2 linked regions of the Homo sapiens genome follow. The main gene of each other region encodes a partner of the protein of the gene in region 2 in a complex. Each region holds a gene or a part of one and is shown on either strand. Other genes may lie near its edges. The genes, in order: LTK and ALKAL1. A codon is read from its position in the direction of its gene.

Evidence for each region.
Region 1: the proteins of ALKAL1 (region 2) and LTK are in contact, whole or in part, in a crystal structure (PDB 7NX0), measured with the Homo sapiens proteins. Residues at the interface, in NP_997296.1 of Homo sapiens: His93, Arg96, Leu97, Asn100, Thr101, Arg102, Glu103, Arg112, Arg115, Leu116, Arg119, Leu120, Ser123; in NP_002335.2 of Homo sapiens: Tyr124 (codon at 7,258), His140 (codon at 7,210), Phe143 (codon at 7,201), Ala250 (codon at 6,491), Ser251 (codon at 6,488), Pro252 (codon at 6,485), Glu253 (codon at 6,482), Leu359, Phe360, Leu361, Gln362, Leu364, Ala365, Val366, Glu368, Glu372, Glu374, Arg376.

The regions. Positions count from the first base shown.
Region 1 is NC_000015.10:41,504,998-41,520,605, forward strand, and holds the start of LTK (leukocyte tyrosine kinase receptor isoform 1 precursor), read right to left. Parts: upstream 8,831-15,608; 5' UTR 8,713-8,830; coding exon 8,670-8,712; intron 8,124-8,669; coding exon 7,980-8,123; intron 7,882-7,979; coding exon 7,710-7,881; intron 7,269-7,709; coding exon 7,118-7,268; intron 6,967-7,117; coding exon 6,820-6,966; intron 6,582-6,819; coding exon 6,425-6,581; intron 6,412-6,424; exon of another isoform or gene 6,350-6,411; coding exon 6,167-6,349; intron 4,133-6,166; coding exon 4,034-4,132; intron 3,240-4,033; coding exon of another isoform or gene 3,225-3,239; coding exon 3,072-3,224; intron 2,661-3,071; coding exon 2,565-2,660; coding exon of another isoform or gene 2,517-2,564; intron 2,467-2,516; exon of another isoform or gene 2,448-2,466; intron 2,294-2,447; coding exon 2,098-2,293; intron 1,009-2,097; coding exon 918-1,008; intron 781-917; coding exon 716-780; intron 534-715; coding exon 404-533; intron 309-403; coding exon 211-308; intron 68-210; coding exon 1-67. Other genes in the region: RPAP1 (RNA polymerase II-associated protein 1), read right to left, coding at 12,545-12,694, 12,801-12,860, 13,009-13,185, 15,394-15,608. UniProt on the Homo sapiens protein: Receptor with a tyrosine-protein kinase activity. Following activation by ALKAL1 or ALKAL2 ligands at the cell surface, transduces an extracellular signal into an intracellular response.
Region 2 is NC_000008.11:52,559,448-52,575,596, forward strand, and holds the start of ALKAL1 (ALK and LTK ligand 1 precursor), read right to left. Parts: upstream 5,984-16,149; 5' UTR 5,810-5,983; coding exon 5,620-5,809; intron 1-5,619. UniProt on the Homo sapiens protein: Cytokine that acts as a physiological ligand for receptor tyrosine kinase LTK, leading to its activation. Monomeric ALKAL1 binds to LTK, leading to LTK homodimerization and activation.

The sequences.
Region 1 (15,608 bases), on a different chromosome or scaffold from region 2:
GTCCCCAATCTTGGCCACTCGGCTGGGTCCAGCGCAGCTCAGCAGGCAGTTCCGGGCGGCAATATCCCTACAGAGTAGGCAAAAAAAATCACTGCCAGAATCTAGAAGTTCTTGCTCTTCCTGATCTATTTCCTTAAAAGCTGTGTGGAAGGGCTGTTCCTTGGGGAGGGAGTTGGGATGGGGGTCCCCTGAGCCAGGACTGCTCCTAACCTGTGGATGAAGTGATTTTCCTCCAGGTAGTGGCAGCCCTGGGCTATGTCCTGGGCCAGTTGCAGCAGGTCCCGCATGACCAGAGGTGATGGCTGGCCCTGGGTCAGGCAGAGGGGGCATCAGTCCATGTAGGTCTCAGACACATGGACAGGGTCTTTAGAGGGGCCTGGGGGGGCTAAGACAAGGGTCTCACCAGGTGTGGCCGACTGTGCCTCAGGAAACTCTTCATGTCCCCTCCAGACATCAGTTCCAGCAGAATGAGGCGAGGGGTGGCCCTGAGGCTGAGCCCCACACACCGCACAATGTTCTGATGGCGAAACTTGCTGAGTGGGGTGGGGGACATATCCCGTTACCAGGAGGGAGACGGAAACCATGTTTTAGGCTCCACAAAGCTGGAGAGGCCCTCTGTGTCCCCTGACTTGCTACCTCAGCCTCAGGGTGAAGAGAAACTGTTCCCGGGCATTCCCCTCCCGCCTTCCAGCCCTGCCCCTGGTCCCAGGTGCACCTGATGATGAGGGCCTCCATGAGGAAATCCAGCTCATCCTGAGGCGAGCAGAGTTCTGGCAGGGTCTGGGGAGGAAAAGGGCACAGTTTCTGAGCTGCCCTGCACGCTTCAGGAGAGGGGGTTAACCCTAGCTCTAGTCATTGTCCTTCCCTTCAGGGTGTTCCGCTCTCCTACCCCCAGCCAGAAGTCCCACTCCTCTCACCTTGATAGCTACCTGCAGGGGACTGGAGTCCCCAGGAAGGCCAATTACCAGTCCCTCATACACCTCCCCAAAGGCACCATGGCCCAGGGCTCTGCAGGAAGACACGTTGGAAGGGAGTGGGCAGGCGGCCTGGAGAAGAGTCCTAGAGAGTCTAGTACCCCCTTTACCTCCCCTGCCCCTGCCATATGCCCAGCTGACCCTATATAGACTCTCTCCATACCATGGCATGTCCCCAGGTAGAAGCCCTGCAAGGGTGGTGCTCACTGGCATAGAGCCAGGGCAAAAAAGAGGGCAGATGCGGGCCAGAGTCAAGGTGGGAGTGCATGATGAGGACTTCCCTGGTCCCTGCAGACGCCCTGGGCGGGAGGCAATCCCTGGGCTCCAAGAGTCATGATTTTTTTTCTTTTTTAAACGAAGTCTCACTCTGTCATGCAGGCTGGAGTGCAATAGCGCGATCTCGGCTCACTGCAACCTCTGCCTCTCGGGTTCAAGTGATTCTCCTGCCTCAGTCTCCCGAGTAGCTGGGACTACAGGCAAGCGCCACAACGCCCAGCTATTTTTTGTGTTTTTAGTAGACACAGGGTTTCACCATGTTGGCCAGGCTGGTCTCGAACCCCTGACCTCAGGTGATCCACCTGCCTTGGCCTCCCAAAGTGCTGAGATTACAGGCGCCAGATCATATTTTTTTTTTATTGAGACAGAGTCTCACTCTGTCGCCCTGGCTGGAGTGCAATGGCGCAATCTCGGCTCACCACAACCTCCGCCTCCCAGGTTCAAGTGATTCTTCTGCCTCAGCCTCCCACGTAGCTGGGATTACAGGCATGCGCCACCATGCCCAGCTAATTTTGTATTTTTAGTAGAGATGGGGTTTCTCCATGTTGGTCAGGCTGGTCTCGAACTCCCGACCTCAGGTGACCTGCCTGCCTCGACCTCCCAAAGTTCTGGGATTACAGGTGTGAGCCACCACGCCCAGCTGAGAGATCATATTCTAAGAACTGGGACGGAGAGGTGACATTGAGCAAGTTACTTCCCCTTCTGGAGCTTCTCAGGGCCTCCCTCTCCCTTACACAAGGGATGTGGGCCAGATTTTTTCTGGGACTTATAATTCACTACAGCAGGGAGAGAATCAGAGGTGGGGATTCAGAGTGCATAGGTTCTCAGAAGGAGGCAGAAGACTTACCTGAGCAGAGTAACATTGGCTGGGGAAACCTCGGTGACACCTGGTGGCAGAGGCCAGGACTGGGCCGGGCCAAGCCCCACCTGGCAATAATAGGGATTGGGGGCTGTCCTGATGGCAGAGGTTCGAAGCTTGCTCAGCTCAAGCTCAGGGCTCGGCAGCCTCATCTCCTGCAGGCCCTGCCACTTCTTCTGCTTCACTGGGGGTGGGAAGAATAACGGCACACCCTCCACCTGCCCATCAACTCTCCCTCCCCCACCTGCCCAGGACACCCCTCCAGATGCTCATTAAGGTAAACGTTTTCCCCAGGCCTCCCCAGCTCCTTCCTATCTTAGAATCCCAGAGGAGTCTACCACGGCTCTGCTGCGGTGAGTGGTCTTGAAGTCAGCCCCGGGACCCCGCAGAAACCCATCCCAGCTCACTGGAGAGGAGCAGCCTTGAATCAACTGTGCCTGCTAGACGCTTCGTACCCAGAATCAGGACCCCACACACCATAAGGAGGCTCAGTGTTGAGGTTGCCACCACAGCCACCATCAGAACCAGAGGGCCTGGGGGCTTGTGCAGGTCTAGGGAGAAAGAGAGACACCTCCAGTGGGAAGGTCTTCTCTGTTCCTTTACCCTCAAGTTTTACCCACGCTTCAAGACTCAGCTCAAGTGTTAATTTTTCCATGATGCCTTCCCCCATTATCCTGGGCAAAAGCAACCTCTCCCTCTTGAACACCCCTAAAGCACTTTATACCTCCCACAACAATCGTCACTTGAGATATACATTTACATAGCTATATCTAAACATCCTCCCACACTGGACGACAGGCCTCTGAAAGGCACTGTGCACCGATGAATCTCCAATCCCCTGCCCAGCACCCACCACAGGGCCTGGCACACAGCAAATCTCTATACCATCTTTCCCAGTGGCCTACTGCTCCTCCCAGTCTGTGACCCCAGGAGTCCAGACCTTGGGCAAAGGTAGGACATACCCATGCAGGTGACGTTATCCACAGCTAGCTCCATGCCTTCTGGGCACAGGCATTCAGCCAGCTGGAGCTCTGCCTGCCATTGGCAGTCTCTCAAAGGGCAGTGACTGCAGTTGAGGTGCCTTCGGATCTCTACCTCTCCGTGGTTCTCGGTGACTGTGAGTAAAAGAACTGATATGATATGGTGTGGTAGGGCTGGGATATAGTAAATACATGCCTTTGGCTGGGTACAGTGGCACACGCCTATAATCATTGCACTTTGGGAGGCCGTGGTGAGCGGATCACCGGAGGTCAGAAGTTCAAGACCAGCCTGGCCAACCCCGCCTCTACTAAAAATACAAAATTAGCCGGGTGTGGTGGCGCACGCCTGCAATCCCAGCTACTCCAGCACTGAGGCTGCAGAATCACTTGAACCCGGGAGGCGGAGGTTGCAGTGACCCAAGATCGCACCACTGCACTCCAGCCTGGGTGACAGAGCGAGACTCTGTCTCAAAAATAAAAATAAATAAATAAATAAATAAATAAATAAATAAATAAATACATGCCTTTTCCAGCCACATGGTTAATTCTAGCCCAGGACTTTAGAGCAAAGAGCAGCACCAAGCTTACAAGGGTGGTGAGAGAAGCTGGGGGACTTCTGTCAAGCCTGCACACTCCCAGGTATTTGAAGCGAATTCATAGCAAGGGGGTACTTGAAAAGCACGCAGCATGCCCTGCATTGCCATCCAGCACGACTGGCAGCCCACTTTCCTTTTTTTTAAGACAGAGTTTTGCTCTTGTCGCCCAGGCTGGAGTGCAATGGCATGATGACAGCCCACTTTTCAAATGACCCTATGCTATGCAAGAATCCTGTGCTATGCAAGGTTATTCACAGTGCAGGTGGCTCTTCAGTGCAGTGCAGGAGTGGGCTCAGGGACTGCGGAAGAAGTCCAGGCCAGGCTCAGAGGTGGGGTTGGGGCCAATACCTGCCAGAGGCTGCAGGAAGAGCTCGCTGCTGGGGTGTATGAAGGATACTCCATCTTCCCCATCAGCCCAGAGGTTGTCAGTCTCTGAAGCGTCGCCCCCTGGAAGTGGAGAGTGATGGAGAGTTTGACTACAAAAATGGGGGATGGGGGAGAAGCTGGAATCTCCCGGTGGAAATCCCAGTGTGGCCCTCTCTTCTCCAGCATCATGATGCAAATGCTGTCTGTTCACAAGTGGGAGTGAAGGAGGTGAGGAGGGGGTAATCAGCTGGAGCCTGAAGGCCTCGCTGAGGCTGGCTGGGATGCCTCCTGCCTGCCTGAGCCCCTCCTGTCCCATGTCCTCACAGTCCCTTTCTGTGAGAATGTAGATCATGTGTGTATGTATGAGCAGTACAGCCCAGACAGGCACAAAGGCATTTACACTAGTTATTTGATCAAAACACAGATGACTGGGACTCTCCCTTACAGTTTCTGATTCAGTATGTTAGAGAAGGGCTGAGAATTCGCATTTCTTTTTAAAAATTAATTTTTAATTAAAAATAAAAATTCAGGGCCAGGTGTGGTGGCTCACGCCTGTAATCCCAGCACTTTGGGAGGCCGACATGGGCGGATTACGAGGTCAGGAGTCCGAGACTAGCCTGACCAACATGGTGAAACCCCATCTCTACTAAAAATACAAAAATTAGCCGGGCATGGTGGCGCATGCCTATAATCCCAGCTACTCAGGAGGCTGAGGCAGGAGAATTGCTTGAACCCGGGAGGCGGAGGTTGCAGTGAGCTGAGATTTGTACTACTGCACTCCAGCCTGGGCAACAGAGCCAGACTCCATCTAAAAAAAAAATTCATATATTTATTGTATACAGCATGATGTTTTGAAATATGTACACACTGTGCAATGGCTAATGCAAACCAATATATACACCACCTCACATGCTTATTTTCTGTGGTAAGAACACCTATAATCTACGCTCTTACCAATTTTCTTTTCTTTTTTTTTGAGACAGAGTCTTGCTCTGTCACCCAGGCTGGAGTGCAGTGGCACGATCTTGGCTCACTGCAACCTCCGCCTCCCGGGTTCAAGCGATTTTCCTGTCTCAGCTTCCCGAGTAGCTGGGACTACAGGCATATGCCACCACGCCCGGCTAATTTTTGTATTTTTAGTACAGATGGGGGTTTCACCATATTGGCCAGGCTGGCCTCAAACTCCTGACCTCAAGATCCACCCGCCTCCGCCGCCCAAAGTGTTGAGATTACAGGCGTGAGCCACCGCGCCCCGCCTCTCTTAGCGATTTTCAAGAATACATCGTCATTAACTACAGTCACCATGTAGTACAGTAGATTCTGGAAGGTATTCCTCCTATTTAACTGCCATTTTGCATTGTTTTGACCAGCATCTCCCCAACCTTCCCCCAACTCCCAGGATAATTTCCATTGTTTTTTTTTTAATCTTTGAGACAGAATTTCCCTCTTGTCGCCCAGGCTGAAGTGCAATGGAGTGATCTCGGCTCACTGCAACCTCCGCCTCCCAGGTTCAAGCAATTCTCCTGCCTCAGCCTCCAGAGTAGCTGGGATTACAGGCTCCCGCCACCACGCCCGGCTAATTTTTGTATTTTTAGTACAGACAGGGTTTCACAGGTTGGCCAGACTGGTCTCGAACTGGTGACCTCAGGTGATCCACCTGCCTTGGCCTCCCAGAGTGCTAGAATTACAGGCGTGAGCCACCAGGCCCAGCTGATAATGTGCATTTCGAACAACTTAGGTTGTGGGGATATTACCTGTTCCTGGACCACACTTTGAGAACCACTGACTTAACCCAATCCTGCCTTTCTGCCCCTTTGCTCAGCTTGCTCACTCGGCCAGCTCTAAGTTCTGAAGACTGCTGCAGAACAAGGCAGGGACCTGCTGTGATGGGAAAGATCCTGGATTAAACGGAAATCTAGGGAGTCCTGTCTGCATGCTGATTTGCAGTGTATTTGACCTCCTTTTCTAAGAGCTCCTGCTTTTTGTTTGGAGCTGCTGAGCAGGGCTTAATGCCTCTCCCACACCTATCCTCCCGAGGGCTCCGGCCTGTACTTAGGTTCTAACATCACCTCACCCTCGGGCCTGCTCAGCTGCCCTCTCCAACGGTGCACCTACCCCTGTAGCCGCCGCCGCCTCCGCCCGCAGTGCAGGCCCCGCCGCCGCCCCCGAAGCCGCCGGCCGCGGCCCAGCCAAGGGTCGCCCAAGCCTCGGAGCAGCCCTGGCCGCCCTCCGCCCCCTCCTGCAGTGAGCGGCCGGCCTGCGGAGAGGGAGCCCGCGACGTCCAGCCGCCCCCACCACCTGCAGAGCGACAGCAGGAAGGTTGGCAGCCACACGGGGAGCACGCCCGCCTCTCCCCGCGGCCCGCGCCCTCACCTGCCGCCCCGCCTCTCCCGCCGCTCCCGGGCGCCTCCGAGCGGTTCTCCAGTTTCTCGGGGGAGGCCTGAGTCCGGCCTCGGTCCCGCGGCCTCAGGTAGGCCCGACCGCCGCCTCCGGCCGCCACCAGCAACGGTTCCAGCTCGCCAGCGCGCACCTGTGGGGCCAGCGGCGTGTTCCAGGAAGCGCCCTCCAGCTGTCCAGGGGCACTGCCACTGGGAGAGGGCTCCCGCCCAGGGGGCCTGGATAAGGGCAGGGGCCCCCAGCCCAGCCCAGGCCAGCCCAGCCCAGCGCAGGGATAGGGGGACCCCAAGGGACGGACGGAGAGCCGGTGCGTGAGCGCCCCTGGGGAGAGGATTGGGACCCCAACGCTGAGCGCCGAAGGGAGCACGTACCCGGAAAACGTAGGTGGCGCCCCCGCCACCCCCGCCACCTCCCGCCCAGCGCCGCGACCCCGGGACCCCTTCGCTCCCATCCATCGCCGCGTGCTCTTCAACGGCTCGAGACTCCCCGAGGCAGACGAGCTGGCTCTCCGGGCTACCCTGCGGGCAGCGGGGGAGGGAATCGGCGGGGCCCGGGAGCCTCCCCTCGCTGTGCTGGTGACCCGGCACCGAGGAAAGCACGCTCCCCCGGCCCCCAGGCAGCCCTCGCCCCCGGCGCCGGCGCCGCCCCATCCCCACTGGCTGCGCTCACTCCGGGACAGGCGTCCTCTCCCTGCTGCCCCACCAGGATGTACAGCGACTCCCCGAGACCGAGGGAGAAGATTGCTGAGACGAAGACGCCATGCGCCCGCGACAGGTGGTTCTTGGCGCCTTTGCCGCCCGCGGCTCCGTAGGCTGAGATCCTGCGGGGAACGGACGGTGAGTCCCCGGCCTTCGGTGCTCAGGCCGGCCGCTCCGGGCAGAAGTTGGCGACAGAGGAGGCTCCAGAATTATTTTTTATCTGAGGGACTTGGAGGCTGCAATCGACTCTGACGGGATGGGAAGGGTAGGTTTGCACACCGAAAAATCAGATATTACACTTATTTCAGGAGGGTTCGTGGAAATGTGGGGAGGCTCAAGCACCCCTTGGCGCCGCCCTGGTTGGGGGCCTTCCGCTCGGTGTAAGAGGTTCCGGGTAAGGGCTAACTCGGTGGCGACTACTGCCACCTTGAAGGGCACTCAAGGTGGACCTCCCCGCGGAATAGTCCAAGACGCAAGTCGGTGCGCACGTGGACTTCGTTACCCTGAGGGTGAAACCTCCAACTAGCAGGTCACTGTCCACCCTACCTCCGCCGTGCACTTACAGATACTGGCCAGGGCCCGGCACGCGCCACAGCTGCACGCCTCTCAGCTGCCCGGCGGCCCCCACGGTCACCACCACGCTGGTCCCCGCGTACGCCCCGTCACATTGTGTCTGTGTGGGCCCATGCCGGCCGCTGGCCCCGCAGGTAGAAAACAGCCAAGACCCCTCGGTGCCTGAGAGCAAGGAGCGAGGCAAGGGTCGTCGAGCCCCTGGCTGGGCCAGAGGGGTCTGGTATGGTGAGCGAAAGAGGAAGGAGGCGTCTAAAGCTCACCCGGAGAATTCAGCGGGGAGGCTGGCTCCAAGATACTAGGCGGGGCGCTGACTTTCGGGTCCCGGGGGCTGGGACTTGCCAGCGGCAGGGGCGAGGACCGCAGAAAAGTCTCCTGGGACCCCGGGCTAGAGCAGAGAATGGCGCCTGAAAGGTGTTGGGAGAAGGCGCAGGACGTTAAGGCGGGTGGAAATAGGATATGAAAGAAAGAGAGAACCCCGCAACAGCTGCCCTTGCGGTCGCGGCCACACCCGTCACCCGGCCCAGCCGCGCTCTCAGCCTGGAAGCCACTACCCGACTCCGGTCGCAGAAGCCCCGCGGGTGCGCGCTGATAGGTCTGCCAGTTTCTCTCCTCGAGCGCCTTTCCCAGTGAATAACTTAGGGGCCGCAATGAATTTGGTCCTGCAGCCTCCCCAATGCTTTCCTCAACTTAGATTGGTGGCCCCGCCCCAAGGCGGTGCTGAGACCCCAAAGAATGTTCCTCCTTCCCAAGCTGCGTGATCCAGACTCTGGGATTCGCACGCACTTGGCGCTTCTCGGCCCGCACTCCAGAAGCACGGACCGGAGAAATTTGGCTGTGAGAGTTCGAGGCCTCTGGAGGAACCACTGACACCTGGCCTGTTGACCGGCCACCCCCAAGCCTAGGAAAGTGCCTCAGGCTGGACGGTCCCCTGACCGCCAGATAGCACTTACCCGCGGCTCCGAACCACACCAGCAGCTGTCCCCAGCAGCCCATCCCTGTTGGGTCCACCCGGCAACAAAAGCCCTTGCGGTCGCGGCCACACCCCTGTCAACCTAAAGTTGACAGCTCATTTTGCCACGGCAGCCCTGGCCACCACTTACAGGGGTGTGCTGCCGCTGGCGAGACACTCCCCGGACCTAAAGCTGGTCTGGCCACGCCCACCTCAGACCCCAGGACGCCAGAGGAGGAAAGGGAGGGGCGTGTGGGCAGCGAGGTCCCTACGCTTCCGGGAGGAGCCTTAAGGAGTCCCCACCCAGGGGTTCTAGTTTCCAGCCGTCAGATGTGCCGCAGCCTGCTGGGAGCTCCGGTAGGTTTGAGGCCGGAGAGGAGGTGCCCCACGCTTAAAGTGGGAGCCACACCTCGGACACCAGGTGGGGGCTTCCAGGTTCCTGAGGACAGGAGCAGTGGAGTGTGCACTTCATTTGTGGCAGTGGTGGTGGTGGTGAGTGTGTGGCATGCGTCACCACACGTGGGAAGTACTCTAAACTGCTCCAAGTAAGGCCTCATTACCTGCCATTACTTGTGCCTTTTAGTGGTGCCTTTGTGACTGCAAGGCTGAACCTCATTGCTACTCCCAGAAACCTGGATCTCTGTGTTTGCCTCATATAATTCCGTTGCCTGTGTTACCCCTGTGCACAGCCTCTCACTGTGATGGGGTGAAAGACTGGACCAGACGTTAGAAGATCCGAGTGTTTTTAGTAGCACTGAAGGTCAATAGATGATAGGTAGGTAGACCGATCGATCGATTGATCTTGAGCACTAGTACTGGCACCTCTGGTCAATGGGTGATGTAGCACAGGCCACAACTGCCCTGAGAGTTTCCCCACCACCTGCAAAATCATATGAAGGGAAATTGCTCTGTAAGGTACCCTACAAATGTGGGAGCCACTCCCTTCAGGTAGTTTTGTGTCTTGAGTCTTCGATCATTTGCTTAAATGATCATTTGCCGGGTGCGGTGGTTCATGCCTGTAATCCTAGCACTTTGGGAGGCTGAGGCGGGCAGATCACCTGAGGTCAGGAGTTCGAGACTAGCTAGACCATCATGGCAAAATCCCGTCTCTACTAAAAATACAAAATCAGACACACGTGGTAGCGCACGCCTGTAATCCCAGCTACTCTGGAGGCTGAGGCAGGAGAATGGCTTGAACCTGGGAGGCAGAGGTTGCAGAGACGAGATCGCACCATTGCACTCCAGCCTGGGCAACAAGAGCAAAGCCCCATCTCAAAAAAAAAAAAAAAAAAAAAATCCTAACTTGAAAGTCTGAGACCTATGTTTAATACAAAATACTTCAAAAGAGAAGTTATAGTAGTTAGCTACTTGGTAAAGTCTGAGTATAATTCAAGGTGTAAACAGAACAGTGATTTTGTAAAAAGTCTGGTCTCAGCCAGGCGTGGTGGCTTACACCTGTAATCCCAGCACTTTGGGAGGCCAAGGGGACGGTGGGGGTGGGGTGGATCACAAGGTCAGGAGTTCAAGACCAGCCTGGCTAAGATGGTGAAACCCCGTCTCTACTAAAAATACAAAAATTAGCCGTGCGTGGTGGCAGGTGCCTGTAATCCCAGCTACTTGGGAGGCTGAGGCAGAGAATTGCTTGAACCTGGAAGGCAGAGGTTGCAGTGAGCCGAGATTGCACCACTACACTCCAGCCTGGGTGACAGAGTGAGACTCCATCTCAAAAAAAACAAAAAACAAAAAAACCCTGGTCTCTATGCCCTACTTAACACTAGATATCACACTATGAGATCACAGAATTTACCTTGCAAAGTCTCTTTAAGCCACTGCTCTTCAAATTGTGGTTGTGTGGTTTGTTCTGAACATCAGCATCAGTATTACCTGGGAACTTGTTAGAAATGCAGATTCTTGGGTTTCACCCCAGATGTACTGAATCAGCAGCTTCTGGTGGTAGGACCCAGTGATCTGTTTTAAAATATCCTCCAGATGATTTTTGTCACAAAGTTTGAGAATCATTGGTATTTGCTGATACAGTAGTTGCTTAATAAAACCTATTGGGGCCACATGCTGTGGCTCACACTTATAATCCCAGCACTTTAGGAGGCTGAGGTGGGCGGATTGCCTGAGCTTAGGAGTCTGAGACCACCCTGGGCAACATGGCAAAACACCGCTTCTAATAAAAATACAAAAAACTAGCCCGGTGTGGTGGTGCATGCCTGTAGCCCCTGCTACTCGGGAGGCTGAGGCATGAGAATCACTTGAGCCTCAGAAACGGAGGTTGCAGTGAGCCAAGATCATGCCACTACACTCTGGCTTGGGCTACAGAGTAAGACTCTGTCTCAAAAAAAAAAAAGAAAAAAAGGCTGGGCCCAGTGGCTCATGCCTGTAATACCAGCACTTTTGAAGGCTGAGGCGGGCGGATCATGAGGTCAGGAGTTCGAGTTCAAGACCAGCCTGGCCAACATGGCAAAACCCCATCTCTACTAAAAATACAAAAATTAGCCAGGCGTGGTGGCACGCGCCTGTAATCCCAGCTACTTGGGAGGCTGAGGCAGGAGAATGGCTTGAACTAGGGAGGGGGAGGTTGTGGTGAGCTGAGATTGCCCCACTGCACTCCAGCCTGGGCAACAGAGCAAGACTTCGTGTCAAAAAAAAAAAAAAAAAAACCCAAAAAAACCTATTGGATAATTCTGTGTTCAGCAGCTCCATTTATGAAGACTGGGTTCTCTCTACCTACTGACAGGGCTAGGCCTTGGCACACTGCTCTGACTCTGGTTACTTGCAAACACAATAAGTAATCCACACAGCAAAAGACAGTCTAAGAAAGCCTAAAGTTTAGAATTCAGACCAAAGAACAATGTAGAAACTACCAAAATAGGCCAAGTGTAGCGGCTCATGCCTGTAATCTTAGCACTTTGGGAGTCTGAGGTGGGTGGATTGCTTGAGCTCAGGAATTCAAGACCAACCTGGGCAACATGGTGAAACTCCGTCTCTACAAATACAAAAAATTAGCCAGGCGTGGTGGCACTTGCCTGTGGTCCCAGCCACTCAGGAGGCTGAGGTGGGAGAATGGCTTGAGCCCAGGAGGTCGAGGCTGCAGTGAGCTATGATCACGCCACTGCACTCCAGCCTGGGCAACAGAGCAAGACCCTGTCTCAGAAATAGATAGATAGATAGATAGATAGATAGATAGATAGATAGATAGACAGACCGACCGACCGACAGACAGACAGACATGGGGTCTCACTATGTTGGCTAGGCTGGAATTGAATTCCTGGAATCAAGTGATCATCCTGCCTCAGCCTCCCAAGTAGTTGGGACTACAGGTGTGTACCACTGTGCCTGGCAGGCCCCACATTCTTGTTGTCTCCAGATGTGGACAAAGTTTTTACCTCCCACTTATGATTCTTCCCCATCTCTCTCACAGCAGTCCTGCTCCTCACCTGGGATAACCCACCCCCAGATACTAACCCTGAACTAACATGGCTGAAATCAGTCCAGATCAAATTTCCAGGAGATAAAAAACATTTATTTTAATGCACAACTATAGCATTCATATGCCTCAGCCCAGGGCAGGGGTTGGGAGTTAGGTAAGAAGGGATGCATTTAGTTTGCCCTGTCCCCAAAGAGCGGGTAAATAGCTAAGCCACTCTTCACTCCCAGTACAGACCTTCAGAAGCCCCAGATATCAGGATGTAATGGTAGGGCTCACTGCTCTAAAACAGCTCAAACAACCTGCTCCCAGGAAGGCAAGCCTTCTGCTCCTTGGTCTCCTGCCTACCATTAGGACACAATGTTCTTCGTCTGGCCAGACATCTGTTGAAAGGCTGGATACAGGACAACGTACCCATCTTTCCATCTATATCAACTATCCTAGGTCTCTGATACCCCATTTTGGAGCACTGTTGAAGTCAGTCTCTGGAGGTAGTGCTGACGCAGAGGGGGCAACTGAGAATAGAGCTCAAAGCCCTCTGGGAGCGTGGAATTGGGAAGCTTATAGTGCAGGAGGTGCTGCCGGAGACCCTGCAGAAAGGAAAGAAAACTTATGAAGTGGGTAATGAGATCCTGTTGTGGTCTCTGTCCCCCAAGATCCTCTAATATCCCACCCTCCTAATGGCCCTGACCCTACCTCATCTGCCAGCAGCCATGTTTTCTGCAGCATACTCCTGCGGGCAGCTTTGACCTCATCCTAGAAGCAGAACAGGGAGAGGTGGCACTGAGCCGAGGGCTGGTACCCACCACTGGCCTTGCTTGACACTTACCTCTTCCCCAGCTGGCCCAGAGGCAGCTCAATTGCTAGCTCCCTTCCTTCCTCTGAAGATGGAGATGTAACTTACTGAGCTCTGTGGGTCCTGAGAGAAGATGAAGCTATTGACATGAGCCACAGCCACAGCATAGAGCACGGGGCACCAACGTGGGCGGAGCGCACCAGTAACCAGGGTCCGGAAGTAGAGCTGAAGGAGGGCCAGGTTGTCTTCAGGAGGCACTGTGTAACACTCCAGGGACACAGGCAACTGTGACAGGGGAAATGACGTGCTGAGGGGGAGGGTAGGAATGTATATACATACATAAGGTGTGTGGATAACGATCACATGAAACCAAATCATGAGGGCAGAGATCAGGTCCTAGACAAACATCTGTCCTTCTAGCACAAGGATCAGGGTTAAAGACTACAGAGCAGATGTTGGGGAAAACTGGGAACTGAGAAGCAGCCATTAAAAAGCATGAAATTGGCCATGTGTAGTGGGCCACGCCTGTAATCTCAGCACTTGGGAGGCTGAGGCAGGCGGATCACACGAAATTAGGAATTCAAGACCAGCCTGGCCAACATGGTGAAACCCCATCTCTACCGAAAATACAAAAATTAGCTGGACATGGTGGTGGGTGCTTGTAGTCCCAGCTACTTGGGAGGCTGAAGCAGGGGAGTCGCTTGAACCCAGGGGCGGAGGTTGCAGTGAGCCGAGCGCGCCACTGCACTCCAGCCTGGGCAACAGAGCAAGACTCCGTCTCAAAAAAAAAAAAAAATTAGCCAGGCATGGTGCTGTGTGCCTGTAATCCCAGCTACTCAGGAGGTTGAGGCAGGAGAATCGCTTGAACCTGGGAGCTAGAGGTTGCAGTGAACCAAGATCATCAGGCCACTGCACTCTAGCCTGAGCAACAGAGCGAGACTCTGTCTCAAAAACAAAAACAAAAACCCAAAATCTTAAAAACAAAAAACAAAATACAATAACTTCTTTTTTTAATAGAGTCTCGTTCTATTTCCAAGTCTGGAATGCAGTGGTGTGATCATAGCTCACTGGCAGCCTCAACCTCCTGAGCTCAAGTGATCCTCCTGCCTCAGGCTCCTGAGTAACTGGGTCTACGGGCAAATCACCAGGTCTGGCTAATTTTCCAATAATTTTTTGTAGAGATGGTGTCTAGCTTTCTTGCCCAAGCTGGTCAGAAACTCTTGGCCTCAAGCAATCCTCCCACCTTGGCCTCCCAAAATGTTGGATTACAGGCATGAGCCACCTCACGCAGCCATAACACAGTAACTCTTTTTTATTTTTCTTTTTTGAGATGGAGTTTCACTCTTGTTGCCCAGGCTGGAGTGCAGTGGTATGATCTCGGCTCATGGCAACCTCTGCCTCCTGGGTTCAAGCGATTCTCCTGCCTCAGCCTCCGGAGTAGCTGGGATTACAGGCATGCACCACGACACCCGGCTAATTTTTTGTATTTTTTTTTAGTAGAGACGGTTTCACCATGTTGGCCAGGCTGGTCTCAAACTCTTGACCTCAAATGATCCGCCCACCTCGGCCTCCCAAAGTGCTGGGATTACAGGCATGAGCCACCGCACCTGGCAAACATAGTAACTCTTTACAGCTTATAAATTTAAGTCCTTAGCCTAATATTTGAGGCCCTCTCAGACTTCACTTCTTATTTTTAGCCTTAAGTTCCCAACAGAAATCTCTCCTCCCTCCTTCTGCCCTTTGTCATGCTCCTTTTGCTTATGTTATTCTGTTAGGAATCTCCTGCCTTTCTACCTCCTCACCAATTCAAATTCTACCCAACCTACAGTGCCTGGGTCAATCCCCACTTCTTCCACAAAGCCCAATTTGATCTTTCCCTTCTCTGAATCCTGATACCACCTAGCATCTGAATAATTCACAACTATGTAGGTTTTCAGTAAATCTCTTCTTATCTAGATTGTAGCACTGATAAGCAAGGAGCTATGCCTTATTAATAGTAATGAATACCCACTATATGCCAGACACCAGGTTAAACCCTTTCCTTTTTTCTTTTTTGAGACAGGGTCTTGCTCTGTCACTGGGCTGGGGTGCAGTGGCGCGATCTCGGCTCACTGTAGCCTCCGCTTCCCGGGTTCAAGCGATTCTCCTGCCTCAGCCTCCTGAGTAGCTGGGACTACAGGCACCCGCAACCACGCCCAGCTAAGTTTTGTATTTTTAGTAGAAATGGGGTTTCACTATGTTGCCCAGGCTGGTCTCAAACTCCTGACCTTAAGTGATCCACCCACCTCAGCTTCCCAGAGTGATGGAATTACAGGCGTGAGCCACCACACCCAGCCCATGTTAAGCCCTTTTCATTGATTCTCTTAATCCCCTCAAAGCCCCCAAGAGGTAAGATGAGGAAGCTGAGGTCTTCCAAAGCTCCTCAAGGCTCAGGACTGCCCCCGAGGCCCAGTGCAGGGTACCCTTGCAGGTCCTGCTGGGCTGAGAAAGTACCTGGGTCAGAGGCAGGCTCAGAGCTCGCAAGGCTCCCACGTGTTCCCCAAAGAGGGCAAGGCGCAAGGTGACACTGAACCGACGCTGCAGGGGCAGGAGGACCAGGGCCCCAAAGAGGTGGTCCCCAAAAGAGACAGCCTCAAAATGATCCAGGAAGTTGGCATAGAGGTCAGGGAAAGACGTCAGGCCAGGGAGTCGGCAGTCCAGGTTGAGGT
Region 2 (16,149 bases):
CTTTCCAAGAGATTCCAATATGCCACCTTTCTCCTCCTCACTCTCCTTAGTTAAAAAAATTCTGATGGTCCCAAAAATTCAAGGTACATGAGAATTCTCAAAGAGTTTGTTAAAATGCAGATCTACAAGCTGCACTCATACAGATTTATTATATCCAGGGTGAAGTCCAAGAATTACATTTGAAACTTGCCTCTCAGCTGGTTCTGAAACAGATGATCCCAGGAGCCTCATTTTAACAACTACTGCTCTAGAAGGTATTAAGGACAGTAAATACTGTATTGTCTAAATATAACCAAATGCCAAAAAGTTAGCTTATGCCTCATAATGGTAGGAAGTAAATAAGACAATAGGTCTGCTTTAGCTTTGGGGAAAATAAAAATTTTAATTCTATATGTCCACAATTATGTATCTATAAATCAATAAATAAATATTTTAAAATTCAAATTATTTTAGTTTCAAAGTTAAAGAAACCTGCAAAGTTTCTTTTTTAAAATTCAATTTCTTCTGAAAAAAGTAATTCTTCCTAAAAGAAGAATTTACACAATGACTTTGGTAGGCTATGGGATATTAAAAACCGAGTAACCCCTAGTCTTCAACTTAAAGAGGCTCACATTCAAATAGAATAATATAATATCAAACTAATATGAGTTTCAGTGTGAGGTGTGCTGTAGGAAGAAAAAAACGCTATCTGTGTTCAACAGAGAAAGAAATCATCAATGAACGATATCATCAAATCAAAAAGCCTAACAATAACTCCAAGTAAAACACATTTAATAAAATTTTAATTTTATTAATATGTAAAAGACTACACATCTTTCACGTATGATATAAATATTGTAGCTATTATTTCCTGGCAGTTTATGTTGTTAGATATATAAATGGAGTTATAAGAAATATTTAAACTCCAGACACTCTACTTACTACCCACTACTGTGACGTTTTCTACAATGGCAAATAGTCGAAGGAAATATCACCTGGCCACGTTTTTCTATCCTCCTACACAGCAACAAAGATCTTAGAAATCTGCTCTCAAATGTCATTTCCAGCAATAAAACTGAAGGCCAAAGAAAAAAATTGCCATTAAAAAGGAATTGTTTTAATCCTAGGTTTTCCTAACCAATATGTGATTGGAAAGTAGTCTCCTGGGACTGGGTCATTTCAGGCAAAGAGAACCCCACAGTGGGTGATTCTGTTGACCTCTGCACAGAATTTCCTCACTTAGCAGCTCGATAAATAGGCTCCTGCAGAAAGGCCACAATTCCTACAAGAAATACTGTGAATGGGCAGAAACTCATTCCTCTAAGTTAGCTTTGGCATCTCAGAATGAGTATTTATGATCCTGCTAGCTAGCAGCCCCATGCCCAACAGACGTCTGGTCATATATATAACCTGCCAAATCTACTTGGTGAAAAATCATATATAACCTTTTCACTTTGACCTCTCCCCATACTAACAGTTTTCAGTAAAATAAATAGCTTCAAGTAACCCTGCAAATAACATAATAAAAATATTAAAATGGAAGATGATGGCTATGTTCATCTGTTTGACTGTAGTAATCATTTCTTGTGCCTACATATAACAAAATATCATGTTGCACACTTTAAATATATACAACAAAAAATGATTTTTAAAAAAAAGTACCCATCCATACCCCCCTCCCAGGTGATATGCAAAGCAGCAAAAATTTTTTATTATTTATGTGAAATAAATTGTTACTCACCAGGTATAACTGTCTAAGTGGGCAGATATAATAGCCACAGACTTGCAATAGAGAGAATTTGGGCTGTACAAATAAAATCCCACTATTACGCAAGCCCCTGCAGTATTTAAGTATGTCTAGTTTTTTTTAACTTTCATCAGATCTTTGGGGATATTTGCAAAGTGAATTTATGGTTTAAGACGCATCTGAACGCATAAATAACCGAACTGCAAAGACAGTACAAAGGAAGGGGGCCTAGATGGATGAATAGAATTCCAGCAGGCAGAGGTAAGAGAAGTGCATTTCAGGAGAGGGAGGAATAGCGTTAAGCACAGGCAGAATGGCCTCTGTAAGGAGGGGGTACCAAGCCTGGGACTGGCACAGAGGCACTTACAGTAGCTCCTGAGAGCTGCCGAAAGGTAAGAGGAGGTGGCACAAAAGGACTTGAATATCTGCCTTTCTTTCCAAGGAAGCTAGGACCTTCCTGGAAAATCAAGAGAAACCACAGCAGATTTATGACCAGGAAGAGACCAGCCCCATGCTACTTATTAAGCACGTTGATTTGCCATTGTTCAGCATAACCTCATCAAAACCCCTTCACATTCTCTCCTTAAGCTCCATGTCAGTGAGGTTTTATATTAAAACAGCAACAGCAAGCACAACAACACAAATCTGACTCCAGAAAGCCTGTAGAAATAAGGTAAACATTTACTGAAATCTCTTGAAAAGGCAGAGGTAGCAAAAGAAACATCATATACATCAATAGTTGCTAACAGTACCCTTACACTGCTGCCTCCCACATCTCAAGCCAATTTCCTTTCTGTCAAAAACTGAACCTCCTCTCTACTCCCACCACGGCCCTATTCTCAGCCTTCTGATTCTGTTTTCCTTTCAGTGGGTGAGTGCTCTGATGTTTCTTTCCTTTGGCAGGGTTTGAGGTATGGTCCCTTGTTTGTGCCATCCTGCTGGTGGCGCAGTGACCAAAGACAAAGGGAGGAGGAAAGAGGAATGAGAGAGCAGGAGCGAAGGTTACTGGGAATTCTTATCCCAGTAGGACACACTGTCAGGGGCACTAATAGAGTTGGAGATGATCGAGAAGGTCACCGTAAAACTCTCAAGAGGGTCTGAACTAGAGTGGTGGGAAGGACACTAAAAAGGAAGACCCAGATTCGAGAGACATCGCAGGCAGGAATTATGAACTGAATTGTGCTCCTCAAGCACAATGGTCAACAATGTTGCCCATCCCAACGACCTCAGCTGTGTGTTAAATTGCTAAATGAGAGGACGGATACAGGCACGAACAAATGGGCTGTGAGAAGGAAGGAGGGCCAAGGACGGTGAATCAGGAGTGTTCCTGGGAACCTAACACAGTCCCCCACTCTCCGCAATCCTCGGGGCATGCTGTCTGGTCCCTCCTGCCTCAGGGTTTCCTGGTTACTACTCCCTCTACCTGGAAATGATCCCCCCACCTCCAGCTCACATCTGCATTTAGGGAAGTTGCCTGGCCTACAGAAAAAGGCAGACAGAGCAAGTGCAGGGGCAGCAAAGATTTCTGAACCTAGAACAGGTACGTTAGGCCTGGGTGATGGTGCTTATTACGTCACTACAGAAATATGGGGCCATCATTCCAGGCACATCTGGCAGAGATGAGAGTCCTTGGCCTCCCGGACCTGCGAGATATTTTCCTCCTGAATGAACGATAACCCCTGCCACCTGCTGAGTGCACCCCGTGAGAACATCCAGATAGGCCCTTGTCCTCTATATTCTCATGTCCCTGTTTGTTCCTGATCCATGTGCAAGTACTCCATTCACAGACTCAGATACGGATGTCATGAGCCACCCTTTTCTCCCCTTGTGAATGTAGTATAGCAATCAAAAAATTAGACAACTACAGTCACAGAAAGCAATGGCTTTAAGGGTGCCCACAGGGCACTTTCTGTCTGACTATATTGTTGTTTAAAACTTCAGATGGTTGCCGCTTTTAACTATGGCCGGGCATAGTGGCTCATGCCTGTAATTCCAGCACTTTGGGAGGCCAAGGCAGGCAGATCACTTGAGGTCAGGAGTTCGAGACCAGCCTAGCGCAACATGGTGAAATCCCATCTCTACTAAAACTACAAAAAAATAAAAATTAAAATTAGCCGGGCGTGGTGGTGCGCCTGTAATCCTAGCTACGTGGGAGGCTGAGGCAGGAAAATGGCTTGAACCCGGGAGGCGGAGGTTGCAATGAGCCGAGATCACGCCACTGCACTCCAGCCTGGGAGACAGGAGCGAAACTCCGTCTCTAAATAAATAAATAAAATATTGTTTTATCCCTTGTAACTCACTTCAGTAAGTCTTCACTGTCTGAATCAAAGAGAAAAGATCTGTTGAATGAAACAGAAGGTCTGAATGAATGTGTGCCCTCCATGTTTCTGTACTTTGAGAGCCTTTCTCCCAGTCCTTTCACATTCCAAAGTGACATTTTATTCTCTGAGATAAATATTTTAGGCTAACAATAATTTTAAGTCAAAGTGCATGATCTGTGTGCACCATTGCTGCATGGCCGTGCTGCGGACACTGACCCTGTGCCCTCCCCTCCTGAGGGCTCCCCAGTGGCCGGCTGGACTGAGAGGCTCTGCCCGGGTTGTCCACACACCAGCTGGGCAGCCCACCTCAGCCTCCCACCTTCTCCATCCCCTCCCCAGGGCAGGACACCCTGCTCACTTAGTGCAGGTGTGCACCAGCGCCTCCTTCCACACCCAGGTGTGTGGGAGAGTGCAGACACTGCTGTCTGCTCCTCTGGGTGGCCTCCGCCCTCTGCATGGTGACAGACAGGAACTCGAAGAAAGTTTGTGGAGTGAATAAGTATATATTTATATCACAACTATTGTGAAAGAAAAATCATACTAAGAAGCCCTTGTTTGCTTTCTTAGCCATAAAGCCTGAGGAGAAGGGATCAGGAGCTGTGGTCCCACGGCCAGCCGCTAGCTGCGAGGCATCCCCAGGCCACCCTAGGCCCTCTCCTCTTCCCAAGCCCGGTGGAGGCCACCAAATGTCCCCGCAGAGGGGCCCTTCTGTCCCAGCCTCGCCGGCAGCTTCACCTTGCTCTGCTCTTGCTGGGTGTGAACAGAAACGTGTGAGGAGCTTCTCGCTTCTGTCCCCACCTTCCTTTCCTGCGTGTCCTGCCCTCCTCCCTCCAGCGCTGCCCCAAGTGCCCGGCCGCCCCCTCGGACCTCCTTTTCCAGGGGCTTTTCCGTGTTCCCCGTATTCACACGACTTCTCTGCCTGTGGATGTCTCATGACCCTCTAGAGCAGCGACTTTTTCCTCCCTCATTCCTTCCACTCCCCTCGGGCATCTAAGTAGCAGGAACCTGACTGTCCAAAGTTGATTTGGGAGCAGCCGGCTGCCCTTCTAAAATGATCTAGGAAAGGTGCCAGTAACATAAGCCGCCGCCTGCTGAAACTGGCGCTTCCTCAGCCACTCGCTGCGGCCAGCGTGAAAGGGGAGGGGAAAGGGGCATTCCTGGCACGGTCAGGTGTCTACGGACAGCAATCTTAGTTAATTCTCAAAACCCCGGAAGATCCAGAAATGGGGTGCTGACAGGGACCTAACCTGTCCACCACCCCTCGGTCGGTGGGACTGAAACCCATGTCTTTGAGCTGCTTTACCAGTTTATTTCCAAAAAGTCCTCCTACACCTGGGAAGGGACATAGAAAGCTGATCCCATTGCCAGCCGGATTTCTTTACTTAACTCTCAACCGTGGTAAATCTAATTCGCTTACGACCTCTTTCCGAGAGCTGGGAATCTGCAGAGATGCTCTGTTTTCTGCTGTACTAATCTCAGGCTTCCCAAAGCGAGTGCCTCGCCCAGCTCCTAGGGGAATCCACGGAGCCCCAGGCGCAGGGCAAAGGATGGGGCGGGATGGGGACATCGTACCTGCGCTCCGGGAGCCGCTGGGAGTCCGGCCGGCCCCGGCCGCGGGGAGGAAAAGCAACGGCTTGGGCTCCTTATCCGTGACGCGCGCTCCCCTGCGCCCCCGGGGCCTCCCGTGGGCTCCGTGCGGGGACAAAGCCAGCGCCAGCAGGAAGAGTGCGGGCAAAGGGGCGCCGGGCTTAAGGGGCCGCATGTTCGCAAGCCGGGAGGAGAGAGCGGGAGACTCCGGGAGGATCCCGACGCAGGTCCGGAGGGTGCGCGGCCCAAGAGAAGGCCAGCGGGACCACAGCGCGGCTACGCGGCCGGCCGCAGTCTTCACCGCGCGCCTGCCCTTGTCTACGTCCCGGGGGTCGGCTGGAGCTGCACTGGGACTCGGTCCTCAGTGTGCCGAAGCCTAAGCGCTGCGGGGCGCGGGGCGGGAACGGGAGGCGGTGCCTGGGGCCACGGGGTCGTCCCCCAGGATGAGGGCGTGTCCCAGCGCGCGGGACCCTCGGAAGTCCGCGCTGGGCCGGGCGGGCACCAGCCTCGGACTCAGCGGGTCTCAGGGCTCCCTGCGCAACGCCTGCCTCGGATCCGGACCCCGGGCTCGCTCTCTGGTCGCCGTCCCCGGGAGGACCCAGTAGGGTAACTGCCGCGTCGCCCCGGCGGTTCTCCCTGGGCTCTGTCTCCCGCCGCCTCCACCCCCCGAGCCTCGGGGTCCGTCACGGCTTCCCCTGGCTGGCGGGGTCAGTAGAACCCGCGGCGCCTAGGTCCGGACGGAAAAAAGCAGGGCCGGGGTGCGGCCTGGATGAGCGGAGATCTCCGCGCCTTGGGCTCAAAGGTGCGGGGTGCGCTCTGCTGCCGAGCCCCTGCTCGCTCAGGAACACTGGCCACGCCGTCACGCCAGCCGCCCCTGCCCCAGGTCTGGAGGCCCGACCTGCTCTCCTAGGCGCAGCACCGCGTTCTCTTCCGCGTGGGGGAGCGGCGGGCGGAAGAGGTCTGGGGCTGGGCACCGGGGACACGCGCCCAGCTCCCCTGGCCTCCCTGGGGGGAGTGGCCGGTTTCAGTGCTTCCCCAGGTGAAATCGCCAAGGTTGACCAGTGCGCCCAAAAAAGCAGCCGGCTGGATTTTTCTTCAAATTAGGGAACTCTTATAAAGAGTTTTAGTGTTAACAACTTAAAAAATGAAATTAAGGCCAGTCGTTCTGATTAAAGTGCGCCTCTCTGATCAAACCGCGCTCTGTAAACTGTTGTTGTTTTAGTTGTTTCAGCCGCCTGCTTTATTGCTTTATGTTAAGTATATTGAAAAATGTTGAAATTGCTCGCTAATCAATTGACTACTAATTATCTCCTCATATGCAAAGTGCAAACAGGTGAAAGGAAAAAGGCAGGAATAACTAAGGGAACTGAGGCTCCATTACTCCTTAGGCGGTGCCCAACGTTACATTACTCTACAAAAAGAAATCTTGTGGGTCACAGATCCTGAATAATGACCTCAACTCCTTCAAATAGTTTATCTAGGCTTGGCATGTCCAACATGCCTAAGAAATTGGGAAGCAAAGCAAGCTTTGCAGGAGCCCTGTGAAATCGTGCCTTTGGATGAAGCTCTTTTGAGGAAGTTGTTACACAGGTGAAGACTGCTTCTTCCAATCGTTTCACTGTTAAGCACGCATAGGAATCTGGTATTTCCTAAGCAAACACAGCAGTGTAAGAGAATGGCTTCCACCAAGGGAGACCCACAAGAGTCTTCCTAGAAAAACAGGTTAAGGGTCTGAAGGCCCTACTTAGGTGGAATAAACGCTTTCTCACAGCTCTACTGAAGTGAAATAAGAAAACATTAGAAGTTCACAGACATTGACAGGCAGTTCAAAAATTAATTTTAATTGGAAAATAAAAAAATAGGGACTAGTCCGAAAAACGATGGGGAAATGCAGTATGAAATAATGCTGGAGAATAAGTGATACTGAAACCATGACAAATGGACTTTTTAATCAACCATCTATCCGGAGCAAAAGACAGCAAAACCTGGAAGCTGAATTATTTCCCTCTTCCTCTACGTTGAAAGCTAGAGGAAATAAACAAAGCAATGAAGTTTTCAAGCCTGACAGTTTGGGGTCTACTTTCAGCTGTCATTAGCCATGGGGCCCTGAGCAAAACACTTAGTCTTCTCTCTAGCAAGGTGAAGAGGTTGAACTTCAGTGGTTCTCACACTGTGTACCATGTGAAGGAGAGGCTGTAAAAAAAATGCAGGTTCCCAAACCCCTGGGGACGCAGTCCCCCAGGAGGATCCTGTAAATCTGCGTTTTAAGGGACTCTGGGTAGTTCTGAAGCAAGTGGTCCTTTGAAACCCACCTTTATTCATTCAACAAAAATGATGTGAACGCACACTGTGGACCAGGCAGTGGAAACACAGCGGAGCCACCACAGTGGGTAAAATAAACAAAATCCTCATCTTTGTGGAGCATCTAACTTCAGGGATCTAGTTCCTCAACACAGTGCTTTTATCATAAATAAACAGGTTACGTATAGCTAAGTCACTCTTTGCTTTTGTTCTTTGTTCATTGCATATCTTTGACTACTTTTCTAACTGCCCCAACTAAATGCTGCTTGCCCTGCCTCTTGCTAATTAGTTTAGAGGCAACTTGAAGTGTTCATGTGGGCATTCCCTCAGTAACACTTGCTAATTTATTTAGTATATAAGGAAGGGTTTTCTGTGTAGAAATGGGTACTTAGTAACTAATGTTTAAAGTAATCCAAAGTTTTTAAAACTGTAACTGTTACAAGCTGTTTTAAGCCTTGAAACTCAAGGCACTTATTTTCTTTACAACTTAGCTAATAAATTAAACAAGTGAAGTTTCCTTATTTAACACCAACAAACCCTATTAAACATTTCAAAATACAATCACATATTTAATATAGTTGATTTTCTTAAACATTTTTAAAACCAGAATTTTAAAAGTCACAATTGAAAAATCCATTGCTACATCTCCCCCAAAATATTGGTAATATTGGTAATATAAACTTGTATTAAGGTTCTCTAGAGGGACAGAACTAACAGGAGATATATACATATATATACACACATATAAATATAGAGATATATGTAAATATATATATAATACTTAATAAACTCCTACATATATATAGGAGTTTATTAAGTATTAACTTACACAATCACAAGATCCCACAACAGGCTGTCTGCAAGTTTGAGCAACAAGGTGACCCAGTCCAAGTCTCAAAACTGAAGAACTTTGGAGTCCGATGTTCAAGGGCAGGAAACATCCAGCATGGGAGAAAGATGTAGGCTGGGAGGCTAGGCCAGTCTCACCTCTTCACTTCAATCCAATCAAGTTGATACTCAGTATTAACCATCACAAGAATAAGATTATGACACAAACCTAGAGAGTTGATATACTCCTGAGGTAGGACAGTAAAGGTATATTGCTGGCCTTGCCAGCTGAAGGCAAATTGCTTCTGGTGGGCCTTATGGACAGGAATGGAGAAAACGGCATTTGCCAAGTCAATGTCTGCATACCAGGTACCAGGAGATGTGTTAATTTGCTCAAGCAATGAAACCACATCTGGTACTGTAGCTGCAGTTGGAGTCACCACTTGGTTAAGCTCACAATAATCCACTGTCATTCTCCAACATCCATCTGTCTTCCGCACAGGCCAAATGGGAGAGTTTAATGGGAATGTGGTGGGAATCGGAATCACCTCCCCTGCATCTTTCAATTCCTTGATGGTGGCACTAATCTCCTCAGTTCCTCCAGGTATGCAATATTGTTTTTGATTTACTATTTTTCTAGGTAGAGGCAGCTCTAATGGCTTCCATTTGGCCTTTCCCACCATGATAGCCCTCACCCTACCAGTTAGGGAGCCAATGTGGGTGTTCTGCCAGGTGCTAAGTATGTCTATGCCAATGATGCACTCTGGCACTGGAGAAATGACCACAGGATGAGTCTGGGGACCCACTGTAAGTCAGACCTGAGCTAGAGCTCCATTAATTACCTGACCTCCATAAGCCCCTACTTTAACTGGAGGACCACAATGACATTTTGGGTCCGCTGCAATCAACATCAGCTCAGAGTCAGGGTCCAGTAATCCCCAAAATGTCTGATCATTTCCCTTTCCCAGTGCACAGTTACCCTGGTAAAAGGCTGGAGGTCTCCTATTTCCCTTTCCCAATGCACAGTTACCCTGGTGAAAGGCTGGAGGTCTCCTTGGGGAAGGGCGGGGAAAAAATTCACTGCCTAAATTGTCAGTGATGTAGTGGGGTCCTTCCTCAAGGGGACCCAGCCTCCCCTTCATTCAAGGGGTTCTGGGTTTGTAAAACTGGCTCAAATCTGGAAATTGATTGAGAGGCCATGATTCTCTGTTTTTATAATTCAAATTAGTCTTTGGTCCATTCAACCTAGAATTTTTCTCCTTATAGAAATTAAGAAGGAATGCAGTAGGCTTCCTATCAATTTCACTTCTACGAACACTGTGATTAATTAGCCAATGCCAGAGCTCTACACAAGTCAGACTATTCCGATTGCCGCTTTGCCTCTGCTGTCCATTATGGTAGCTACGCCCACCTTGCCTTTGACAGTTGAGTGTTGCCACTTGGCCCCTGCCTCCCTGGGATCCAATTATGCCCGTTGTATTTAAATTTTGTAGTTGAATGACTGTGGTTCCCACCATTAGATCTGACATACAGAAAAGAGCAATTACAGGGCTCTTCAAACATGCAAGTGCTGCCCTCACGCATCTATTTCACAATGCATTGGTCAAGGGTATATCTTCTGGACCCTCCCAGCTGGAATGAGTAGGTCTAAAGTAATTAAGCCACTCCACCATCCCAATATCCCTAAGCCTTTGGAGTCCCTCCTCTACATTAAACCAAGGGAGATCAGGCATTTCCAGCTTGCTCTCAGTGAGCTATCTTTTAATCCATATTTCAGCTAACTGAGCAAATAAACTATTAGAACCTTTTTTTAACTCCCCAAGCTGCAACATTAAAAGCAGTGTCCCTACTTAGTGGGTCCAAATCAATAAATTAAGCCTGATCGAACTCTATGTTCCTTCCACCATTATCCCATACCCTTAATGTCCATGTCCATGCCTGTTCTCCAGATTTCTGTTTATATAGATTAGAGAACTTAAGCAGTTCTTTTCGAGTGTAGCACACCTCCTCATGGGTCACACTCTCAACCTCACCTCTAGGGACTCGTGAGGACTTTAGTTATAGGTCAGGAAACAAACAGGAGTGTTGGGGCTGGCTCCTAAGGAGAATCAACATTATTTTGCCTGGAAACTGCTTCGGGGAGGCCATCACTGTTGCCTCGGGCAGGACAAGGTTTATCTTCTCACACAAAGGTGGAAAGGCTGATGGCAGCATGGGTAAGGGAGGGGATTTTGCCACTACTGGGGATGGAGAAGCTGTTTCTTCTGGAAAAAAAGGTTCATCAGAGTTTACAAACTCTGGGTCAGGGTCCTCCCACACGTCTCATTCCAAGTTGCAGGGTCCCATTCTTTTGCAGTCAATGCCCTCACTTTAACAGTAAACACCTGGTGAGGCTGTGCACGCACCTTTCATTGCAGATCAGCCACTCGCATGATACGAGCTTGTGTCTGTCTTTCCACAATTTCAGCTCTTTCTCTACATGAGATAAGGCTCTCATTCAGGGCAATCTTAGTAGATTTCAGGCTCAGTATCTGCTTCTGAAGTCAGGAGACAGAATCCCTAAGTTCCTCATTTTCTTTCATCACTTTGTCCACTGAACTTTGGAGCAAGCAACCAGCTTCTTTATGTTTGTTGGGTCTCCACATATGGTCAAAGGTATTATGTATAGAGTCACTAAACTCCTTGCCTCTCATGAGCAGTGAATCAGGAATGTCAAATACATTTATTTTGCATAATTATCTAAACAGTTCATGCCAAGGACTATCAGTGTTCTCCATACTATTAGAAGTAGAGTCCTTAGCATTTTGAGATCTAATCATATTAAGCAACCAACTCCAGAAACCCCAAAACCAACGAAAGAACTCCATCCTTAATATTATGTTCCTCTAGAACCACTCCCGGTACCAAAATCTGTATTAGTCAGAGTTCTCTAGAGGGCCAGAACTAATAGGAGATAGATAGAGATGATAGATAGATAGACAGATAGATAGATAGATGATAGATAGATAGATGATAGATAGAGATATATACATATATTAGTTTATTAAGTATTAACTTACACAATCACAAGATCCACAATAGGCTGTCTGCAAGCTTGAGGAGCAAGGAGAGCCAGTTCGAGTCTCAAAACTGAAAAATTCTGGAGTCCAAAGTTTGAGGGCAGGAAGCATCCAGTATAGGAGAAAGATGTAGGCTGGGAGGCTAGGCCAGTCTCGCCTTTTTCCATTTTTCTGCCTGCTTTATATTCACTGGCAGCTGATGGACGAGCCACAGACAAAACTCCTCAGACACCGAGTTAAAGAAGGAAGTGGTTTATTCATCAGGGAGCTTCGGACAAAACTCCTGTCTCAAGAGCCAAGCTCTCTGAGTGAGCAATTCCTCTTCCCTTTAAGGGCTCACAACTCTAAGTGGGTCTGCATGAGAGGGTCATGATCGATTGAGCAAGCAGGGGGTATGTGACAGGGGCTGCATGCGCTGTGTGGTCAGAGTGAAACAGAACAAACCAGGAAGTTTCACAATGTCTTTTCCATACAATATCTGGAATCTATAGATAACATATCCAGTTAGGTCAGGGGTCGATCTTTAACCACCAGGCTTAGGTCAGGCAGGCCCAGGCCTGGTTTCGGGTCTGGTTCCTAGGCGCCAGGCTACCTGCCTTTTGTTTCGCTTTTCTTTTCTGAGTATAAAACAATATGAGAGGGTCTGTCTCTCTTCTCTCAGCCTTTTTACATTTTTCTGCCTGCTTTATATTCACTGGCAGCTGATTAGATGGTGCCCACTAGATTAAGAGTGGTTCTGCCTTCCCCAGCCCACTGACTCAAATGTTAATCGCTTTTGGCAACACCCTCACAGACATACCCAGGATCAATACTTTGTATCCTTCAATCCAATCAAGTTGACACTCAGTTTTTTTTTTTGTTTGTTTGTTTGTTTTTTTAGTACTTATTGATCATTCTTGGGTGTTTCTCGGAGAGGCAGATGTGGCAGGGTCATAGGATAATAGTGGAGAGAAGGTCAGCAGATAAACACGTGAACAAAGGTCTCTGGTTTTCCTAGGGAGACGTCCCTGCGGCCTTCTGCAGTGTTTGTGTCCCTGGGTACTTGAGATTAGGGAGTGGTGATGACTCTTAACGAGCATGCTGCCTTCAAGCATCTGTTTGACAAAGCACATCTTGCACCGCCCTTAATCCATTTAACCCTGAGTTGACACAGCACATGTTTCAGAGAGCACGGGGTTGGGGGTAAGGTTATAGATTAACAGCATCCCAAGGCAGAAGAATTTTTCTTAGTACAGAACAAAATGGAGTCTCCTATATCTACTTCTTTCTACACAGACACAGTAACAATCTGATCTCTCTTTTTTTTCCCCACATTTTCCCCCATTTCTTTTTGACAAAACCGCGATCGTCATCATGGCCTGTTCTCGATGGTCGCTGTCTCTTCGGAGCTGTTGGGTACACTTCCCAGACGGGGCGGCCGGGCAGAGGCGCTCCTCACTTCCCAGACGGGGCGGCCGGGCAGAGGCGCTCCTCACTTCCCAGACGGGGCGGCCGGGCAGAGGCGCTCCTCACTTCCCAGACGGGGCGGCCGGGCAGAGGCGCTCCTCACTTCCCAGACGGGGCGGCCGGGCAGAGGCGCTCCTCACTTCCCAGACGGGGCGGCCGGGCAGAGGCGCTCCTCATTTCCCAGATGGGGCGGTCGGGCAGAGGTGCTCCTCACATCCCAGAAGATGGGCGGCTGGGCAGAGGTGCTCCTCACTTCCTCCCAGACGGGGTGGCTGGGCAGAGGTGCTCCTCACTTCCCAGGCGGGGCGGCCGGGCAGAGACGCTCCTCACCTCCCAGACGGGGTGGCCGGGCAGAGACGCTCCTCACCTCCCAGACGGGGCGGCCCGGCAGAGGCGCTCACTTCCTAGACAGGACAGCCGGGCAGAGGCGCTCCTCACCTCCCAGATGAAGGGCGGCCTGGCAGAGGTGCTCCTCACCTCCCAGACGGGGCAGCTGGGCAGAAGCGCTGCCCACCTCCCAGATGGGGCGGCCGGGCAGAGGCATTCCTCACATCCCAGACGGAGCGGCCGAGCAGAGGCGCTCCTCACTTCCCAGACGGGGCGGCCGGGCAGAGGCGCTCCTCACTTCCCAGACGGGGCGGCCGGGCAGAGGCGCTCCTCACTTCCCAGACAAAGGGCGGCCGGGCAGAGGCGCTCCTCACTTCCCAGACGGGGCAGCCGGGCAGAGGCGTTCCCCACTTCCCAGACGGGGCGGCCGGGCAGAGGCGCTCCCCACTTCCCAGACGGGGCGGCCGGGCAGAGCCTCTCCCCACTTCCCAGACGGGGCGGCTGGGCAGAGGCTCTCCCCACTTCCCAGATGGGGCGGCCGGGCAGAGGCTCTCCCCACTTCCCAGATGGGGCGGCTGCCGGGCAGAGACGCTCCTGAATTCCCAGATGGGGCAGCTGCCGGGCAGAGGCGCTCCTCACTTCTCAGACGGGGTGGCCGGGCAGAGGCTCCTCAGTTCCCAGACGGGGTGGCGGCCGGGCAGAGGCACTCCTCACATCCCAGATGGGGTGGCTGGGCAGAGGCGCTGCTCACTTCCCAGACGATGGGCGGCCGGGCAGAGGCGCTCCTCACCTCCCAGACGGGGCGGCTGGGCAGAGGTGCTCCTCACTTCCCAGACGGGGCAGCCGGGCAGAGGCGCTCCTCACTTCCCAGAAGCGGCGGCCAGGTAGAGGAGCGCCTCATTTCCCAGACGAGGCGGCCGGGCAGAGGCGCTCCTCACTTTCCAGACAATGGGCGGCCAGGCAGAGACGCTCCTCACTTCCCAGACGGGGTGGCGGCCGGGCAGAGGCGATCCTCACTTCCCAGACAGAGCGGCCGGGCAGAGGGGCTCCTCACATCCCAGACGATGGGCGGCCAGGCAGAGACGCTCCTCACTTCCTAGACGGGGTGGCGGCCGGGCAGAGGCTGTAATCTTAGCACTTTGGAAGGCCAAGGCAGGCGGCTGGGAGGTGGAGGTTGTAGCGAGCCGAGATCAGGCCACTGCACTCCAGCCTGGGCAACATTGAGCATTGAGTGAGCGAGACTCCGTCTGCAATCCCAGCACCTGGGGAGGCCGAGGCGGCCGGATCACTCGAGGTCAGGAGCTGGAGACCAGCCGGTCAACACGGCGAAACCCCGTCTCTACCAAAAATGCAAAAACCAGTCAGGTGTGGCGGCGCGTGCCTGCAATCCCAGGCACTTGGCAGGCCGAGGCAGGAGAATTACGGGAGCCCGAGGCAGGGAGGTTGCAGCGAGCTGAGATCATGGCAGTACAATCCAGCCTCGGCAACAGAGGGAGACCGAAGAAAGAAAGAAAGAGGGGAGAAGGAGGGGGAGGGGGACTCAGTTTTAACCATTACGAAACTTAATTTTTAAAAATCATCATCTCTATCTGTATACATGTTTTGTACGTTCTTGGATACAAGGCTATTTTTCTGATCAAAATAAATAGAAGTCATGTTTCAGGTTAGAAGCCCTGTTTTAGATTAGGTTAGGTTATTGATTTGAGGTTATCTGATAGAAAATCAGGAGCTTGATTCAATTATGAATTAGAGGAACAGGTCAGGACAGTAACATAAAAACCTGGAACTCCCAAGATGATTAAACCATATTGTAGAGTTTATGGAATCAGGCCCCTTTTTACAGCAATAAAATATTTCACATCCATGTCTCTCTAGAACTTGGTGTGTTACATTTTACTCTGAACTTTTTCTTTTTACTACAACCTCAGACACAACTTTTTAAATAATTTCTTTCAGTTTTTTCTGCCTATATTCATGGAATTGCATGCCACGCATGCACACACACACACAAACACACCCCATTTGTAAGATTGTTACTTAATCTTTTGCTCCCTGATTTGACCTAAACTTTATCCAATATATGCATAGTGTGAATGGAACAATATATGACATTTTCTCTAAATATGATTTTTAAATCACATAAGCTCCTCCTCTATTGTACCACATAATTTTCCATTTTTGAGTAAAATTAAGAATCTGTAATAATAATCACAATATCATTTATCCTTCTTTTGATGCTCAACACTATCTGGTCAACAGGAGTCCTGTGGTCTGTCTCCTTTCTTTTTGGCACTCCACAGCATCTGTGAGAGCAACAAAGGTGTCCAGGCACGCCTTAATTTTCCTTGTTGCTTTTCATCAGGGAGAGACATTTACCTGGCCACTCTAGAGGAGATTTTACTGGAGATGGGGCTGAGTTTGTTCCACATGAGAGCACATGGTGGGGGCATCAAAGATCTACATATTAAGGGTCCTGAATTCATGCAGTTGTTGCCAGCTTAGCTCCAACTTTACTAAGCCCTTTCTTAAAATTATTTTTTCAAATATGTTTTTA